5 linked regions of the Homo sapiens genome follow. The protein of the gene in region 1 purifies or fractionates together with the protein of each later gene. This does not show direct contact. Each region holds a gene or a part of one and is shown in the gene's direction. Other genes may lie near its edges.

Evidence for each region.
Region 2: the proteins of PCDHB2 (region 1) and DLK1 purify together in Homo sapiens (co-immunoprecipitation; one large-scale study listed by IntAct). This does not show direct contact.
Region 3: the proteins of PCDHB2 (region 1) and DKKL1 purify together in Homo sapiens (co-immunoprecipitation; one large-scale study listed by IntAct). This does not show direct contact.
Region 4: the proteins of PCDHB2 (region 1) and CLGN purify together in Homo sapiens (co-immunoprecipitation; one large-scale study listed by IntAct). This does not show direct contact.
Region 5: the proteins of PCDHB2 (region 1) and SYNGAP1 purify together in Homo sapiens (co-immunoprecipitation; one large-scale study listed by IntAct). This does not show direct contact.

Annotation. Positions count from the first base shown.
Region 1 is NC_000005.10:141,093,322-141,097,415, forward strand, and holds the start of PCDHB2 (protocadherin beta-2 precursor), read left to right. Parts: upstream 1-1,293; 5' UTR 1,294-1,469; coding exon 1,470-3,866; 3' UTR 3,867-4,094. UniProt on the Homo sapiens protein: Potential calcium-dependent cell-adhesion protein. May be involved in the establishment and maintenance of specific neuronal connections in the brain.
Region 2 is NC_000014.9:100,725,410-100,729,700, forward strand, and holds the start of DLK1 (protein delta homolog 1 isoform 1 preproprotein), read left to right. Parts: upstream 1-1,482; 5' UTR 1,483-1,659; coding exon 1,660-1,726; intron 1,727-2,986; coding exon 2,987-3,050; intron 3,051-3,526; coding exon 3,527-3,657; intron 3,658-4,291. UniProt on the Homo sapiens protein: May have a role in neuroendocrine differentiation.
Region 3 is NC_000019.10:49,366,867-49,370,384, forward strand, and holds part of DKKL1 (dickkopf-like protein 1 isoform 1 precursor), read left to right. Parts: intron 1-1,838; exon of another isoform or gene 1,839-3,518. UniProt on the Homo sapiens protein: Involved in fertilization by facilitating sperm penetration of the zona pellucida. May promote spermatocyte apoptosis, thereby limiting sperm production. In adults, may reduce testosterone synthesis in Leydig cells.
Region 4 is NC_000004.12:140,403,641-140,407,158, reverse strand, and holds part of CLGN (calmegin precursor), read left to right. Parts: intron 1-1,075; coding exon 1,076-1,217; intron 1,218-3,518. UniProt on the Homo sapiens protein: Functions during spermatogenesis as a chaperone for a range of client proteins that are important for sperm adhesion onto the egg zona pellucida and for subsequent penetration of the zona pellucida.
Region 5 is NC_000006.12:33,440,565-33,444,064, forward strand, and holds part of SYNGAP1 (ras/Rap GTPase-activating protein SynGAP), read left to right. Parts: intron 1-164; coding exon 165-401; intron 402-608; coding exon 609-810; intron 811-1,016; coding exon 1,017-1,195; intron 1,196-1,888; coding exon 1,889-1,930; intron 1,931-2,324; coding exon 2,325-3,396; intron 3,397-3,500. UniProt on the Homo sapiens protein: Major constituent of the PSD essential for postsynaptic signaling. Inhibitory regulator of the Ras-cAMP pathway.

The DNA of each region.
Region 1 (4,094 bases):
AACAGTTCCCCTCACATACCGATTTTCTCCCACTCAAAGTTTCCCTGTTATCAAAATCTTGCATTACTGTGGTACATTTGTTACAATTGATGAGCCAATACTGGTAAATTATTAACTAAATTTCATAGTTTAGTGTTCACTCTTTGTGTTGTATAGTTCTGTGGATTTTGACAACGGCATAATGTCATGTATCTACCATTGTAGTATCGTAAAGTACCCCATGTTTAACCTCTTCATCCCCCTCCCTCTTCTTCCTAGCTATCACTTGTCTTTTAAATGTCTCTATAATTTGGCCTTTTTCAGAGTATCATGTAATTTGAATTATACAGTATCATTGCCTTTTCAGACTGGATTCTTTCACTGAGAAATATGCATTTAAGTTTCCTTCATGTCATTCTGTGGCTTGATAACTTCTTTATATTAACATTAAAAAAGAAACAAAAAGACAAAATTAAAAAACCTAACAACAAACAATGACATATATACCCTGTTTGGAAGCAGATTGAAGAAACCATCACTGAAAAGACATTTTTAAAGATAATTGGGGAAACTGGAATATTTACTGGCTATTTAATATTATGAAATTGCTCTTTGCTAGATGTGGTAATTGAATTGAGGTTATGTTGAAAGTTCTCCTAGGCATTAGAAAGGAAAATAATATTGATACATTTACAATAAGGAAATATCTGGCTGCTCTTGGAGAGTTTCATGAGGCTCAGACACATCAAAGTTCAGGAAAATGTGAAGTGGGAGCAGTGCAAAGAAAGAAATATGAGTAAGGAGACTATTTCAGTGCCCATTAAAATACTCTTATTTGGATTCTGTGCTTTTCCTGGGTCTCTGTTTTTCAGCTGGGTTTGAGTGTGATGATGGTAATCTAACCACCACTGAGTTGCACACATGCCCAAACTCTGAATAAAAATAGAACTTTCTTAGTCTAAGCCTTCTTTCCGAAGCATGCTAGGACTGAGATCACTCCCTTCCAGGTTCTGAAATTTATTTTTTCCAGTTTGAAAAAAAAAAAAAGCTTGGATTTGTGAGGGAAGTGAAGATTTATTTATTCTTGCCCTGTCTCTATGGGTGCAATGAAGAGCCTTTCGAAACGCCAATAAGACTTCGGTACACTGAGAGACACTACTTGAAAATACTCAATTTCGATTGCCATCAGCCTGAAAGAAAGCACTGGGATTTTCTTAAAGTTTAGGAGAAAATAAATACTCGGAAGAGACGCGGGGTGGCGCTGCAGCCTTAGAAGTAGCAGAAACAAAGCACCCAGCCGACGCTCCCTTACCCAGATACTCAGCTAAAGAAGCAGCAAGCAGGAAGAGGAGGCTTTCTAAGGCGGTCGCTCCGGGAAATCCGGGCCCTAGGATTGTCCACTCATCCCAGTATCAGCGAGATACGGGGAGATAGAGTTAGCGACAACGTGAGCCAGAGCTGGAGCACGTTTGGTGAGAGACCAGAAAGCAATGGAGGCCGGAGAGGGGAAGGAGCGCGTTCCGAAACAAAGGCAAGTCCTGATATTCTTTGTTTTGCTGGGCATAGCTCAGGCTAGTTGCCAGCCTAGGCACTATTCAGTGGCCGAGGAAACGGAGAGTGGCTCCTTTGTGGCCAATTTGTTAAAAGACCTGGGGCTGGAGATAGGAGAACTTGCTGTGAGGGGGGCCAGGGTCGTTTCCAAAGGAAAAAAAATGCATTTGCAGTTCGATAGGCAGACCGGGGATTTGTTGTTAAATGAGAAATTGGACCGGGAGGAGCTGTGCGGCCCCACAGAGCCCTGTGTCCTACCTTTCCAGGTGTTACTAGAAAATCCCTTGCAGTTTTTTCAGGCGGAGCTACGGATTAGGGACGTAAATGATCATTCCCCAGTTTTCCTAGACAAAGAAATACTTTTGAAAATTCCAGAAAGTATCACTCCTGGAACTACTTTCTTAATAGAACGTGCCCAGGACTTGGATGTAGGAACCAACAGTCTCCAAAATTACACAATCAGTCCCAATTTCCACTTTCATCTTAATTTACAAGACAGTCTCGATGGCATAATATTACCACAGCTGGTGCTGAACAGAGCCCTGGATCGCGAGGAGCAGCCTGAGATCAGGTTAACCCTCACAGCGCTAGATGGCGGGAGTCCACCCAGGTCCGGCACGGCCCTGGTACGGATTGAAGTTGTGGACATCAATGACAACGTCCCAGAGTTTGCAAAGCTGCTCTATGAGGTGCAGATCCCGGAGGACAGCCCCGTTGGATCCCAGGTTGCCATCGTCTCTGCCAGGGATTTAGACATTGGAACTAATGGAGAAATATCTTATGCATTTTCCCAAGCATCTGAAGACATTCGCAAAACGTTTCGATTAAGTGCAAAATCGGGAGAACTGCTTTTAAGACAGAAACTGGATTTCGAATCCATCCAGACATACACAGTAAATATTCAGGCGACAGATGGTGGGGGCCTATCTGGAACTTGTGTGGTATTTGTCCAAGTGATGGATTTGAATGACAATCCTCCGGAACTAACTATGTCGACACTTATCAATCAGATCCCAGAAAACTTGCAGGACACCCTCATTGCTGTATTCAGCGTTTCAGATCCTGACTCCGGAGACAACGGAAGGATGGTGTGCTCCATCCAAGATGATCTTCCTTTTTTCTTGAAACCTTCTGTTGAGAACTTTTACACTCTGGTGATAAGCACGGCCCTGGACCGGGAGACCAGATCCGAATACAACATCACCATCACCGTCACCGACTTCGGGACACCCAGGCTGAAAACCGAGCACAACATAACCGTGCTGGTCTCCGACGTCAATGACAACGCCCCCGCCTTCACCCAAACCTCCTACACCCTGTTCGTCCGCGAGAACAACAGCCCCGCCCTGCACATCGGCAGCGTCAGCGCCACAGACAGAGACTCGGGCACCAACGCCCAGGTCACCTACTCGCTGCTGCCGCCCCAGGACCCGCACCTGCCCCTCGCCTCCCTGGTCTCCATCAACGCGGACAACGGCCACCTGTTCGCTCTCCAGTCGCTGGACTACGAGGCCCTGCAGGCGTTCGAGTTCCGCGTGGGCGCCGCAGACCGCGGCTCCCCGGCGTTGAGCAGCGAGGCGCTGGTGCGCGTGCTGGTGCTGGACGCCAACGACAACTCGCCCTTCGTGCTGTACCCGCTGCAGAACGGCTCCGCGCCCTGCACCGAGCTGGTGCCCCGGGCGGCCGAGCCGGGCTACCTGGTGACCAAGGTGGTGGCGGTGGACGGCGACTCGGGCCAGAACGCCTGGCTGTCGTACCAGCTGCTCAAGGCCACGGAGCCCGGGCTGTTCGGCGTGTGGGCGCACAATGGCGAGGTGCGCACCGCCAGGCTGCTGAGGGAGCGCGACGCTGCCAAGCAGAGGCTGGTGGTGCTGGTCAAGGACAATGGCGAGCCTCCGCGCTCGGCCACCGCCACGCTGCACGTGCTCCTGGTGGACGGCTTCTCCCAGCCCTACCTGCTGCTCCCGGAGGCGGCACCGGCCCAGGCCCAGGCCGACTTGCTCACCGTCTACCTGGTGGTGGCGTTGGCCTCGGTGTCTTCGCTCTTCCTCTTCTCGGTGCTCCTGTTCGTGGCGGTGCGGCTGTGCAGGAGGAGCAGGGCGGCCTCGGTGGGTCGCTGCTCGGTGCCCGAGGGCCCCTTTCCAGGGCAGATGGTGGACGTGAGCGGCACCGGGACCCTGTCCCAGAGCTACCAGTACGAGGTGTGTCTGACTGGAGGCTCCGGGACAAATGAGTTCAAGTTCCTGAAGCCAATTATCCCCAACTTCGTTGCTCAGGGTGCAGAGAGGGTTAGCGAGGCAAATCCCAGTTTCAGGAAGAGCTTTGAATTCACTTAAGTGTTAATAAGGATCTACTGAGGCTAGTCTCGTTTAATTTGTGGAAAGTCCTTTTTTACTGCTTTGCCCATTGGAGGTGTCTCCTTTTATTAGAAAGTAACCATCTTATTCCAATTCTATGCATGTTACTGGTATTTATAAATGTATGAGTTTTTTTGCGGTATAATAAATGTAAATTTTCTTTGTATTCTAATTGTTGGTTAGTTTCATTGCAATTTAATTGCATTT
Region 2 (4,291 bases), on another chromosome or scaffold:
ACAGTGGTGAGATCACACCCCCCTGCAGCACTGTGAAGAAGGGGAGGCCGCGAGCTGGGTGGGCACCCACTCCCTGCATCTAGGATATGTATGCAAATTAATATATGCAAATTAAGTATCCTAAACGACCCACCCAAAGATTGGGACGCCTGGGACCCTTCCCCCAGGAGGTGAAATATCTTTAATCCCCTCCTACCCCTCTCCCTCCCTATCTTTCTGAGCCTCCCCCATCCAGACTGGGTGCAGGGGTGCAGAGCTTTCCTCTCCAGCAGGGCTCTAAGCCTAAGCCGGGGGCAATGGGGAGGAGGGGTGTCTGAGGAGCACTCCCTCTCCCTGGGAGCTCTGCAGAGGAAGAGGGTCTCTGGCAATCAGCATCCTCTACCTCCACCTCTCCAGCGGGCGACCCCTCAGAGAAGGTCTCCCAGTGAGTCTGGAATACGTGCCGAGTGCCTGGAGTGCTATTGTGTGTATGTGAGAGCACATTGGTGAGGCTGCCCATGCATGCCACTGTGGACAAAGACAGATGCGATCGTGTGTGTGTGGGGACTGCGTATATGTTTTTGTCAGTGTGTGTGACCACGAGTCAGCTGGGTATGTGTGCTTGTGGGTATCAGGTGCATGGCTGTGCGTACATGTGTGCGTAAGAGTCGGTGCATTTGTGTTTCAGCGCGGCTAAGGCCCTGACTGAGATGCTGTGTGTGCGGGGGTGGGTGTGACTGAATGCGGGCACGGGTGTCCGTCTGTTTATACGTGTGTTTGCGTGTTTGGGTGTGCAGGTGGCTCTGCGTAAGCGTCTGTGTGCAGGGGGTCGGCACATGGGGGAGGATGCCCATGGTTGGGTAACCGCAGGTCCGCTTGACCCTCTGCCACCTAGGACTGTGTCTATACGGCGTCTGGGCTACAGTGTGTTTGAGTTGCCGTGTGCGTTTCCGTTGCGGGGTGTGGGTTGCCACGGGGCAACTGCATTTTTCTGCGTCTTCATGGCCAGGGGTACAGGGGGCGTCGGGCTTTTCCTGGGGGTTTTTCTGTGTGCGTGTGTAATTATGTGCTTAGTTCACATCTTCATAGTGCGCCTTTGTGTTTTCCTGGGTATCTAACCATTGCACGTGTGCCCGGGACTTCAGCGATAAGTGTTTCGGTGTTCCTGCGTGCGGATTTGTGCTCTCCGGGGAGGTCTGCGGCCCAGGTTCGATTCCTGCGACTTGTCCTAGGCAGGCCTGTATGTGCGCGGCGGCCGCGTGCTGTACAGTGTGAGGGAACGTGTACCAAACGCTCGCGGGATACCTGTGCCCGTCTAGCCAAGAGTGCACCCGTGTGCGCGAGCGGGCTTCTGGGACGCCGCCGTGGTCGGGGGCGGCCCTGCGAGGGGAGGGGGTCACAGGGACTGGCCGGCGCCGGCCCCGTGCGCACGGAGGCGGGGGCGGGGGGCGGGGGCCGCGAGGGGGGAGGCGGTACGAAAAGGGCGGCGCGCGCGGCGGCGGCGGCAGCTCCCCGGCAGCGGCGGTGGAGAGCGCAGCGCGCAGCCCGGTGCAGCCCTGGCTTTCCCCTCGCTGCGCGCCCGCGCCCCCTTTCGCGTCCGCAACCAGAAGCCCAGTGCGGCGCCAGGAGCCGGACCCGCGCCCGCACCGCTCCCGGGACCGCGACCCCGGCCGCCCAGAGATGACCGCGACCGAAGCCCTCCTGCGCGTCCTCTTGCTCCTGCTGGCTTTCGGCCACAGCACCTATGGTGAGTTCCCCGGCGGCCCGGCTCGCGCCCCCTCTGGGGAAGCCTGCGACTCCCCGCCGGCCGCCCGGTGCCCCGCACGCCCCGTCTCGTGAGCCCCAACTCCGCCCGTCCCGCCTAGCCCTAAGCCCCGCGCTGTGCCTGTCTCGCCCTACCCACCACGCTCGCATGCCAAGGCCCGTCCCAGGGGTCCCAGGGCGCAGGGGATGTGTGAGACCCCCAGCCCCTTCCCGCCCTGCAGAAGTGGCGCCAGAGGGGTGTCGGTGCGCTGAGCAAGGAGGTATGGAAAAATGGGGTGCTGTTGTGGAGTCTTCTATGAAAATACTCTGGGGTGCAACTTTGGGGTGTCCCTGTGTGAGCGTTCTGGAACAGGTCTCGGGGCGGGAGTGGGGGACGACTTTGCCGTCTTAGCCCCCAATTCCCAGAGAAGCCCAGCCTGAGCCCTTCCTGCGTGGCGCGTTTCTGTAGGTGAGGGGCTGCGACACTTCTGTCTGCAGCGGCCATCTGTCTCTGACAGCGAGAGAGTTGCCCCCTTCCTGCAGCGCCCCCCCACTCATTGCACCAGTGGTTGTAAGGGGGCTGTCTAGAAAGCTGGGGAGCTGGTTGAGTAAATGCACACAGTAGGTGCCTGTTAAAGTGTCAGAATCTCTAAGCAGTGTTGTTGCAACCTCAGCCCGCTAAGCAAAACCCTGTGTCGTCATCGTTTTTTTAATGCGAAGAGTCTGGGGTAGGGGAAAGAGGGAAGATTTGACCTGGGTGCCCGGCTTAATAGGGATGAACCTTAAAAAGAATGCAGACGCCTTACTGGGGCGCCCACCAGGTGAACCTGTCTGGGCTTTCCCGGAGTTGAACACCTCAAAATCTGCTCCTCTTTTCAGCTCAGGTTGCAAAAGTGACGGTCAGGCTGCATGCCCAGGGCTCAACATATTTCCCTCCACGGTCCCCGTCCCCGCTGTTAGGAGGACTTGAGGTGTCGTATTTGCTTTTGGGAGTCCGAGGAGAAGGTGTTTCTCCTGCTCCTAAGAACGAGGGAGAGTGTACTGTGGTCATTTCATTGCTGGGAACGTGGCAGAGATGTTTTTCCTGAGTGCACTGAGCCCCATCCATGCTCGGATAGGAAGTGCCTACTGTGTGCCAGGCTGGTAGGACCCAAGAGGGCTGTTGGTGCCCTCGAGGGCAGTGGTGGGCTGTGTGGGCGAAGACAGCCTTTGCCTTGGCCTGGGGCCTGGTGGGGTGAATTGTATAACCTTTCTTGTACCTCAGGGGCTGAATGCTTCCCGGCCTGCAACCCCCAAAATGGATTCTGCGAGGATGACAATGTTTGCAGGTAATAGAGTGGCTCCTCAGAGGCAGCTTGTAGGGGCCACGCAGAAGCCTGGGGAGTCGTGAAGTCAGGCAGAAAAAAATAGGGGGCTTGGCCACTACGCTGCAGCAAACAGCTTCCGGGCCCCTGCAGAAAACTGGTGGGGCGAGCTGGGGAGATGGGGGGGGCGGGGGGGGGGCAGCCACAGCTCCTGTCTGCGTTCTCAGAGGTGGGGGGGCAGGTGGGACCACTGCAGGCCACTGCGGCAAAACGCAGCACTCCCCCGGGATCTCGGGGCCCCTCCAAGTCGGCCCCCTCAGCTTGGCATGTTTTCTCTTTAAGTTTTCCCATTCAGGTGGCTGGTGTTTACTTCCCAGGACCACCGGCTGCCACTGTGCAAAGACCCCCAAGGGTCCTTGGTTCCACAGAAAGTAGCCTGAGCTGCCTCTCTACCCCTGCCCTCTTCATATGTCCCCACCTTTCTCCCCCACCCATTGCAGGTGCCAGCCTGGCTGGCAGGGTCCCCTTTGTGACCAGTGCGTGACCTCTCCCGGCTGCCTTCACGGACTCTGTGGAGAACCCGGGCAGTGCATTTGCACCGACGGCTGGGACGGGGAGCTCTGTGATAGAGGTTGGCACTCGCCTTTGTTCACCTCAGCTCTGCGTCCTTACCTGCCTGCCCTAGCCCCTACCACCTCCTCCCAGTCTCCTGTTGCTGGTGTTCCTCACTTCCTCATTCCTGCACACTCCGTGCCCTGTATTCTAAAGATCTGTTTATAAATTTCCTGTGGGTACCGAATGCCTCCTCAGAGGTAGGGACTTTATTTTGCTCTTCTCTGCGCCATCAGCACCCAGCACCTAGAGGGAACATGGCGTGGGGGCCAGGGAGCTGCCTGTTGAATAAAGAGTCACAAAATACACATACAGCTGGGCCGGTGGGACCACAGACCCCAGGCTGCCTGTCCAGGTCATGGAAGCCCAGTGATGGACAGGGCTCTGGGGATCTCAGAGCTAAGACTCCCTAGAAAAGCACACGCAAGACTGTAAAGAGGCTGCAAACAAACAAACGGGGTGGGGGGTGGCCAGCACTGCTCAGTGGTTGAGGGGCAGGTGCTGAGTCAGGGCCAGGAGGACAGGGCTGGGGGGCCTGGACTGAGTGGGTCAGGTGTAGGGGGAGGCTGCAGTTGGGAAAAGCTGAGAAAGGGTTAAAGTGAAGATGGGTGTTATCTGTTGATTTCATTAATTTATGCAATCTTTGCCTCCAT
Region 3 (3,518 bases), on another chromosome or scaffold:
CCAGCTAATTTTTCTATTTTTAGTAGAGACGGGGTTTCGCCATGTTTCCCAGGCTGGTCTCGAACTCCTGAGCTCAGGCAATCCGCCCGCCTCTGCCTCCCAAAGTACTAGGATTATAGACATGAGCCACCACACCTGGCCCAAAATGTGATTTTCTTCTTCTTTTTTTGTTTTTTTTGAGATGGAGTTTCGCTCTGTTGCCCAGGCTAGAGTGCAATGGCACAATCTCAGCTCACTGCAACCTCCGCCACTGAGGTTCAAGTGATTCTCCAGCCCTAGCCTCCCAAGTAGATGGGACTACAAGTACGTGCCACCACGTCCAGCTAATTTTTGAATTTTTAGTGTAGACAGGGTTTCGCCATGTTGGCCATGTTGGCCAGGCTGGTCTCGAACTCCTGACCTCAGCTGATCCACCTGCCTCGGCCTCCCAAAGTGCTGGGATTATAGGCATGAGCTACTGCGCCTGGCCCAAAATGTGATTTTTAATACCAAAGAGCTGTATGAATGCTAAATGCGTTGTGTATTTCACCTTTGGTAAACTTTTTTTTTTTTTTTTTTGGAGACGAAGTCTCGCTCGTCCCCCAGGCTGGAGTGCAATGGTGCGATCTCAGCTCACTGCAACCTCCATCTCCCAGGTTCAAGTGATTCTCCTGCCTCAGCCTCCTGTGTAGCTGGGATTACAGGTGACTGCCACCACACCTGACTAATTTTTCTATTTTTAGAGAGACAAGGTTTCATCATGTTGGCCAGACTGCTCTTGAACTCCTGACCTCAGGTGATCCAACTGCCTTGGCCTCCCAAGGTGCTGGGATTATAGGCGTGAGCCACCATGCCTGGCCAGGCCACCTTTGGTAAACTTCTACAAGTGATTCTAATTATGAAGTGCTTTGCAAAATCAGGGTATTTTTAATCCTGAAAAGTTTTAAGAAACCCAAAGAGCTTGATACATCCATATGATACCCACGTACACCCATGCAATATCTTCATTTTAAAAATGTTTATTTAAAATTTTATTTTAAAAATTTCAGGACAGGCACAGTGGCTTACACCTATAATCCTAGCAATTTGGGAGGCTGAGGCAGGAGGATGACTTGAGCCCACGAGTTTGAGATCACCCTGGGCAATAGAGGGAGTCTTCATCTCTACAAAAAAATTTAAAAAGTAGGCCAGGCATGCTGGCTTACGCCTGTAATCCTAGCAATTTGGGAGGCCAAGGCAGGCAGATTGCCTGAGCTCAGGAGTTCGAGACCAGCCTGGGCAACACGGTGAAACCCTGTCTCTACTAAAATACGAAAAATTAGCCGGGCATGGCAGCCTGCACCTGTAGTCCCAGCTACTCTGGAGGCTGAGGTAAAAGAATTGTTTGAACCCGGGAGGCAGAGGTTGCAGTGAGCCAAGATCATGTCACTGCACTCCAGCCTGGGGGACAGAGTGAGACTCTGTCTCCAAAAAAAAAAAAAAAATCAAAAAAGTAGCCAGGTGTGGTGGTGTGTGCTGTGGTTCCAGCTACCCAGAAGCCTGAGGTGGGAGGATTGTTTGAGACGAGGAGGTTGAGTCTAAAGTGGGCCCAGATCATGCCACTGCACTCTAGCCTGGGCAACAGAGTGAGACTCTGTCTCAAAAAATAAATAAATAAATAAATAAATAAAATTTCAAGACTACAGAAAAGTTTTTTTTAAAAAACATACTTTATTATTTTGGAAATGGAGTCTCCCTCTGTCACCCAGACTGGAGTGTAGTGGTGCCATCTTGGCTCACAGCAACCTCCACCTTCTAGGTTGTGGAAAGTAAAAAAGTTTCTCTTTAAAGTTTTTATTAAATAATAAATCACAAGTGTTAGAAATAATATTTTTAATTAACTTTTTTTAAGCCTCTTTGCTTTGTGTTAGTAACTCTTTTTTAAACCATATCTTATGTAGTTGTTAGATATAAGGAAATAAGTACCTTCTGTGTCCTTGTACGTTAACCAAGATATTTGGTCTCGACGTGCTCAAGCATGTCCCAGCTCACAGCTTATGCCCTTTCCTTATTTGGAAATGTTATTACTTCTCCAAGTCTTTTGGCAAGCAACTTCCTCTTTTCCTTTGTTCTCCATTGCCTTTACCTATTTAAGAAAGTTTTTTAAGTTGTTAGCCAATTGGGTTTAGCTTAGACTGTGAGGTCCAGCTCCAACCAATGGAGACAGGACACAGCAGTAAGGACCCAATGCATAAGGGATAAATATTCCTGCCTTTCTTTGTTCATTGTGCTCTCCTGGCAGGATTGCTGATGGGCAGCACCCTTTCTACAGAAAGTAAAATTGCCTTGCTGAGAAAACTTTTTGTCTGAATGCTAATTTTTCCTTGCGACACCAAGAAACAAGCATTTTGATTCTAACACAGGTTCAAGTGATTCTCCTGCCTCAGCCTCCCAAAGAGCAGGGATAACAGGCACGCACTACAATATCCAGCTAATTTTTTTTTGTTTGTTTTTTGTTTTTTGTATTTTTAGTAGCGATGAGGTTTTGCTATGTTGGCCAGGCTGGTCTTGAATTCCTGACTTTGGGTGATCCACCCACCTCGGCCTCCCAAAGTGCTGGGATTACAGGCAAGAGAAGTTTTTCTTAAAATAGTACAACAGATTTTAGGCTCTTCTGTATCTGCCCACCGAGCTACTCTGTTCCTGGCTTAGAGAACCAGGAGAAGGGGAAGGGGAATCACCTGCCACATGCTGGAGGTTGGAGCCTGTGGCACCATGGCTTGCCTCACTGCAGTTGGTGGTGGCAACAGAGGCTGCAGTGTGGCCAGAGTGGCTTTTCTGGCTTTGCCCGCCCAGCCACTCTGAGAAAGGCTGGAGGAGAAAGTGAAGGAGGAGTCACCTGTGGTGAGGTGGAGTTTGGAGCTTGCAGATGGCACGGCTCTGTGGCTCACCTCCTACAGTTGTGGCGGTGACAGCGAGGGAGACTTCAGCCTGACTGGAGTAGAAGGGTGCTCGTGAAGGCTAGAGTATTGCCTCCAAGATGCAGCAGTGGATACTCAGGTTTCAGGAGACTCCACTGTCCATGGCGAATCCATGGTCTGCCAGCGCAGTTTTAGAGAGAGAATGTGCCACCGCAGGTGTCATCCTCATGTGCACCCTGGCAGGTAGCCATCTGAAGATTTCAAGGACAACCTGGCAGGGGAGCAGACCAGCGACACTTCCTCTGAACAGGTTCTTGCTGTTCACTTGACAGACTCAGCAACTCAGGCAAGTGTTCACATGGAAGATATCCTGGAAGGATACCAAGCCAGTGAAAGCTCAGATGAAAATGCCCCATGGCTTTGGAAGGCCAATGAATGTGCCAAGGAAAAAGGTGCCATGGAGGATCCTCTGGAAGACCTCGCCAATGAAATTTCAGATTAGGACACCCCACTGGATTTGAAGGCCAAAGAACGTGCCAAGGAAAAAGTTCCCATGGAGGATACCCTGGTGGAAGACCTTGGAAACGAAAGCTCAGATAAGGATGCCTCACTGGACTTGAAGGTTGACAAACGCATGAA
Region 4 (3,518 bases), on another chromosome or scaffold:
GAAAGAAAAGAAACTTGGAAACTTAATAAAAACACACACATTTTTAAAAGTCTAAAAATGTATGTACAATTATAGACCAAAAATTACCCCTCTTTGATTTATAAGACTGTGTCTGGTTCTTGCATTATTTTTCTTAGAAAGAAAAAAAATGATATAAGAGCATTTGTGATTCAAAAGTGCTCATTAATGAATATTTTGAGTTGACACAATACTGGAAAATAGCCAGTTTTGTCGAATTGAATTTTCTTGGAATAGGCAATACCTATCATTTTCAAAACAGAAGATTTTACACAAACAAATATAAGTTGATTTTCTATTCTAAAACCAGTAAAGGAGTAAAGTCTAACATATAACTTTTGGGCTATAGGTAGCCCACCTAGCTTTGCATTGTATGTGGCCCATAATCTAATTTCAGGAATGTCCTGATCTTAACATGGAAAATTGTAACACAGAGAAGGCCTAACTCAGTTTTGCCTTGTTGTAGCTTAGCACTTATGCAGTGCTTTGCTGCCTTCCTGGCCAAAAGTTCTGAGAGCTGATTAGTGTACCCTGAGAAGGGTTTGTGTGAATTAAGCATGCAGTTTTCAAAATGAACTTTAAATCTTTACAATAACTGCTGCAAGTAAGAAAAGTAGCTGATGAGTATTGTGCATTTCAAAATAAATAGACTACTCATTTTGTGTTATGTGTCATATGCAGTTTCAAATATGTCATTTTGAAAATACAATATTGACATACCCTATTGAGACAAACCACATTTTATAATTTCATTGATTAAAAACTCTTTCATAGAAAAACCAAACTAATTCAGCTTTAAGAGTGACTTAATTAGACACTATAGTGTTTGCTATTAGTTTTCACAACTTTAGTTAAGAAGATGAAATCATTCTTTGATAGAAAAAAAAAGATAAATGAGCAGGCATACATATATAGTTGAAGATATTTCCTGATTTAAAATTTTTATTTTTCCCAAGTCAGGCTTCCTGGATAAAAATTATTGTTCACAACTGCTGATAAATAATTCTTAGGTCAATGTTTTCTGTTTTAGTTTAATTTGCTTTGCTTTATTTTTTAGGAAGATGGGAAATTGAAGAGTTGAAAGAAAACCAGGTACCTGGTGACAGAGGACTGGTATTAAAATCTAGAGCAAAGCATCATGCAATATCTGCTGTATTAGCAAAACCATTCATTTTTGCTGATAAACCCTTGATAGTTCAGTAAGTGTTGCTATGTTTTTGAATACTTTTTCTGAATTTTGTATTAGCTTTGGCTTCTGAATATAGCTTGTATTTTGAAAATGGATGTGAAAATCTAGATCTTCCTTTTTCGTTTCACTTAGTTAAAACACAAATGTGCATATACACACAAACATATCCATGCTTTCAATAAAAAGCAGGTAAATGATAAAATTATACAAAGATCAACCATTCTTATGGCCTAGTACTAATATTTATATTTGTTTATTTCAAGGAGTTGTATGTGGGCTATTAAGCAGCATATTTCCTTTGGTCTGAGTGCTTGTATTGACTAAATGAGGAATAAATAGTTTGGCTCTCTTAAAAAAATTTAAAAATTATGTGATATATACTGTAATATATACAATTCTGCTGTCATAAACTATATAATGCATAGTAAAAATCACCATTTTTGTTTTACTCTTAAAATTACTTGTTATCGCCGGGCGCGGTGGCTCACGCCTGTAATCCCAGCACTTTGGGAGGCCGAGGCGGGCAGATCACGAGGTCAGGAGATCGAGACCATCCTGGCTAAAACGGTGAAACCCCGTCTCTACTAAAAATACAAAAAATTAGCCGGGCGTAGTGGCGGGCGCCTGTAGTCCCAGCTACTTGGGAGGCTGAGGCAGGAGAATGGCGTGAACCCGGGAGGCGGAGCTTGCAGTGAGCCGAGATCCCGCCACTGCACTCCAGCCTGGGCGACAGAGCGAGACTCCGTCTCAAAAAAAAAAATAAAAAAAAAAATAAAAATAAAAAAAATTACTTGTTATCAAAATATTAAACAATATATTCAGAACAGAATAATAAAAATTGCTATTAAACCAGTGATAAGATTCAAAGGCAGAAAATTTATTTCAAAAATAAATGTTTATGAATACCAGTGTCTTTCAAGCAGGGACCCCTTTTAAAGGTCACATTCTCACAGATAATCCTTTCTTTCAACCTCTCCACCTCCCCACCATGCCTGGCATGGTGCCTCATGCCTCATGTGTGTAATCCCAGCACTTTGGGAGGCCTAGGTGGGCAGACAGCTTGAACCCAGGAGTTCAAGACCAACCTGGCAACATGGCAAAACCCCGACTCTACAAAAAAATTTTAAAAATTAGCCAGGCATGGTGGTGCCCGACTGTAGTCCCAGCTACTCTGGAGGCTGAGGTGGGAGGATCACCTAAGCCCAGGAAGTCGAGGCTGCAGTGAGCCAAGGTCACACCAGTGCATTGCAGCCTGGGTGACAGAATGAGATCTTGCCTCAAAAAAAAAGAAAGAAAGAAAAAAAAAGAGGACCAAGAATTGAATAGCAGTCTTTCATATGTTTAAAAACAATTCAAAGGAGAGTGAATGTTTGTCTCCTCTTAATATTGATAAAATGAAATGGGGTAAATAAAATGAAGAGATTTATATTCAATGCTATAAATGCTGATTTACAACATAACTTTACTATAAAGCTGCTTTTCCCAAATTGTATACATGTTAATATATATGAATATAATTAAAGATGAAGAATATCCTAACTCAAAACGTAGGAAGTAAAGGCCTGGCGCAGTGCTTCACACCTGTAATCCCAGCACTTTGGGAGGCCAAGGTGGGTGGATCACGAGGTCAGGAGATCAAGACCATCCTGTCTAACATGGTGAAACCCTGTCTCTACTAAAAATACAAAAAATTAGCCGGGTGTGGTGGCAGGCGCCTGTAGCCCCAGCTACTCGGGAGGCTGAGGCAGGAGAATGGCGTGAACCCGGGAGGCAGGGCTTGCAGTGAGCCGAGATCATGCCACTGCACTCCAGCCTGGGCAACTGGGCAACAGAGTGAGACTGTCTCAAAAAAAAAATAAATAAATAAATAAAAATAAAATTAAAAAAGGAAGTATGTTAGCTCATTAAAGACTGAGAAGTTCTACATATGAAAACCTGTTTTCAGCATTACTACTGTGTTTCCCAAACACATTTGATCACATAAGTTTATTTTCCCACCTAACAGTAATTGCTATTTCATGGAACAATTTGAGAAATGATACTCTAAAGAAATTAAGGTTACCATATACTCTGCATATGTCCTTGGTTTTCCTATGACTGGAAGTTTAGCAGTAGTCAAGCTGTATGATAAACATTTTGTTGATCCTCTAATCCATTGTGAATCATTTATACTAGGTAAAAGTTAATTATTTGAAAACTCTAAAAGTTTGCAGTATAAGAAATGGACAAGGTGATTGAATCTAGGCATAATGGAACAATGAAACTGTGTTCACATTTATGCAGCCACTGTACAAAATTGTTTTTTCCAATT
Region 5 (3,500 bases), on another chromosome or scaffold:
CTCCTGCGGTCCCTCCTTCCCTGTCTCTCTCACCCCTGTTTCCACACCCTCACCTCCTACCACCCCCCTCAGCATGTTCCCTGGAAGCTGAGGGTCTCTGGGGCTCAGTCCCGGTCTCTCTCTTTCTCTCTCTCTCTCTCTGTCTCCCCGACCCTTCCCCCCAGCGTGTTCCCGAGGGAGCTGAAGGAGGTGTTTGCTTCGTGGCGGCTGCGCTGCGCAGAGCGAGGCCGGGAGGACATCGCAGACAGGCTTATCAGCGCCTCACTCTTCCTGCGCTTCCTCTGCCCAGCGATTATGTCGCCCAGTCTCTTTGGGCTTATGCAGGAGTACCCAGATGAGCAGACCTCACGAACCCTCACCCTCATTGCCAAGGTCATCCAGAACCTGGCCAACTTTTCCAAGTGAGGGAAGCTTCAGGAGTGGGCAGGGCAGGGAGTGGCAGGGCAGGGAGTGGCAGGGCTGGGGGTCGGCAAGAAGGGTCTCCTGAGTCCCCAGAGATCCTGAGATGGGGAGGCTATGATACCTTGTGTGTGTGTGTATGTGTGTGTATGTGTGTGTGTGTGTGTGTGTGTGTGTATGTGACCTTTATCTTCTGCATTCTTGGCTAGGTTTACCTCAAAGGAGGACTTTCTGGGCTTCATGAATGAGTTTCTGGAGCTGGAATGGGGTTCCATGCAGCAGTTTTTGTATGAGATCTCCAATCTGGACACGCTAACCAACAGCAGTAGCTTTGAGGGTTACATCGACTTGGGCCGAGAGCTCTCCACACTGCATGCCCTACTCTGGGAGGTGCTGCCCCAGCTCAGCAAGGTCAGCAGATCCCCTCTTTGCCCTATCCCCAGATGGCTCCAGAGGTTCCTGGAGCCTGAGAAACTACCCTTTGAAGATTTTTTTTCTCCCCTTGTTTCTCGAGGTGTCACCACTACTATCCCAACTCAGGCCCCCTCCACCTGCACCCTCAGAGGCCCTCTTAGAGCTGGGCACTGAGCCCCCAGGTAACAGCCTCACCCTTCCAGGAAGCCCTCCTGAAGCTGGGTCCACTGCCCCGGCTCCTCAACGACATCAGCACAGCTCTGAGGAACCCCAACATCCAAAGGCAGCCAAGCCGCCAGAGTGAGCGGCCCCGGCCTCAGCCTGTGGTACTGCGGGGGCCATCGGCTGAGATGCAGGGCTACATGATGCGGGACCTCAACAGGTGAGCACCCTGGGACAGCCAGGCCTGTGCCCTAGGAGCCCTTCTCCTATTCTAGATACTCCTCACTGGGCCCCACATGCATCTCTCTAGGGCTTGAAAGAAGGGAGGAAAAAGCACCAAGTTCTCAGGGGAGACGATAAGGAGACAGGTACAGTCAGTGGTAGGCTGAGAGCCCTTTACAGCCTGAGGGAGTGAGAGATTTGGAGCTCTAGGAATAGGGCTGAGGCTCCACCAACTCACGGCTTAGTTGTAAGCCTAGAGCATCCCTGCTGCAAGCTCTGATTTGCTGTCCCTCTGCCTGCCCATGCTAGTCCCCAGGCTGAGGTTCAGCCAGCATGTCATGTCAGCCATGTGTCAAAATGTTCAAACATCTCAGTAATAGCTAGTGAATAAGCACTTCCCCCAGCCCCCGACCACAACCCCACAGACCTCCCCATGATCCAGCACTTAGAGCAGTGACAGCAGAAGCCTAGCAGGGCCTGCAGCCTGCTCCAGAGTCCCAGCCTCCATTCTGATAGGTGGTGCCCGTGCTTCATTTGCTGCTCATTATTTTGATGATGGCCCTGCTTTTTCCTCTGCCCGTGTCTTCCTCCATGACACCATACCCATCCCACCATTCCCGCCTCTCCTTTCATTTGTCCACATCTCTCTCCTTCTCTGTCTGTGCTCGCCCCTCTTTCCATCTCTCTCCAGCTCCATCGACCTTCAGTCCTTCATGGCTCGAGGCCTCAACAGGTGAGGGGCTCTCCCCTCCCCCGCCCTCCTCTCCTCTCCTGTCTGTTCCCTCTCCCACTCCACTGGCCTTCGCCCTACTCCTCTCCTCTCCTCCTCCATGGACCTCATCTCCTCCATATGTGCCCAGCCCTGCCCCCATCCCTTCTCTTGCTGCCCCCATCTCCCCTCCTCTAGGCCTCACCCCCTTCCCGGAGGGGCCCTGTCCTTTCCCTTTACTCACCTGTCCCCTCCCATCCTCCCTGCCTGCCCTCTTCAGGGCTGCCACCGCTAGCTCTCAGCCCTTCCCTCTGGGTCCCACTTTTCACCCCAAGGCCTGTGCCAGACCACAGCAAGGTTCAATTGCTAGGAGCCCTGACCTTACCTTCTGCTTGTGTGCCCCCTTCCCTTCTGACAGCTCTATGGACATGGCTCGCCTCCCCTCCCCAACCAAGGAAAAGCCACCCCCACCACCGCCTGGTGGTGGTAAAGACCTGTTCTATGTAAGCCGTCCACCCCTGGCCCGTTCCTCACCAGCATACTGCACGAGCAGCTCGGACATCACAGAGCCAGAGCAGAAGATGCTGAGTGTCAACAAGAGTGTGTCCATGCTGGACTTACAGGGTGATGGGCCTGGTGGCCGCCTCAACAGCAGCAGTGTTTCGAACCTGGCGGCCGTAGGGGACCTGCTGCACTCAAGCCAGGCCTCGCTGACAGCAGCCTTGGGGCTACGGCCTGCGCCTGCCGGACGCCTCTCCCAGGGGAGTGGCTCATCCATCACGGCGGCTGGCATGCGCCTCAGCCAGATGGGTGTCACCACAGACGGTGTCCCTGCCCAGCAACTGCGAATCCCCCTCTCCTTCCAGAACCCTCTCTTCCACATGGCTGCTGATGGGCCAGGTCCCCCAGGCGGCCATGGAGGGGGCGGTGGCCATGGCCCACCTTCCTCCCATCACCACCACCACCACCATCACCACCACCGAGGTGGAGAGCCCCCTGGGGACACCTTTGCCCCATTCCATGGCTATAGCAAGAGTGAGGACCTCTCTTCCGGGGTCCCCAAGCCCCCTGCTGCCTCCATCCTTCATAGCCACAGCTACAGTGATGAGTTTGGACCCTCTGGCACTGACTTCACCCGTCGGCAGCTTTCACTCCAGGACAACCTGCAGCACATGCTGTCCCCTCCCCAGATCACCATTGGTCCCCAGAGGCCAGCCCCCTCAGGGCCTGGAGGTGGGAGCGGTGGGGGCAGCGGTGGGGGTGGCGGGGGCCAGCCGCCTCCATTGCAGAGGGGCAAGTCTCAGCAGTTGACAGTCAGCGCAGCCCAGAAACCCCGGCCATCCAGCGGGAATCTATTGCAGTCCCCAGAGCCAAGTTATGGCCCCGCCCGTCCACGGCAACAGAGCCTCAGCAAGGAGGGCAGCATTGGGGGCAGCGGGGGCAGCGGTGGCGGAGGGGGTGGGGGGCTGAAGCCCTCCATCACCAAGCAGGTAGGTGAAGGCAGGAGGAAGGCGGGCTGGGTCACAACAGGGAGGGAAGAAGGAGATGGGGGGTGGGGTTGAAACAGAGTCTGTGGCCTGAAGTTACAATCTTC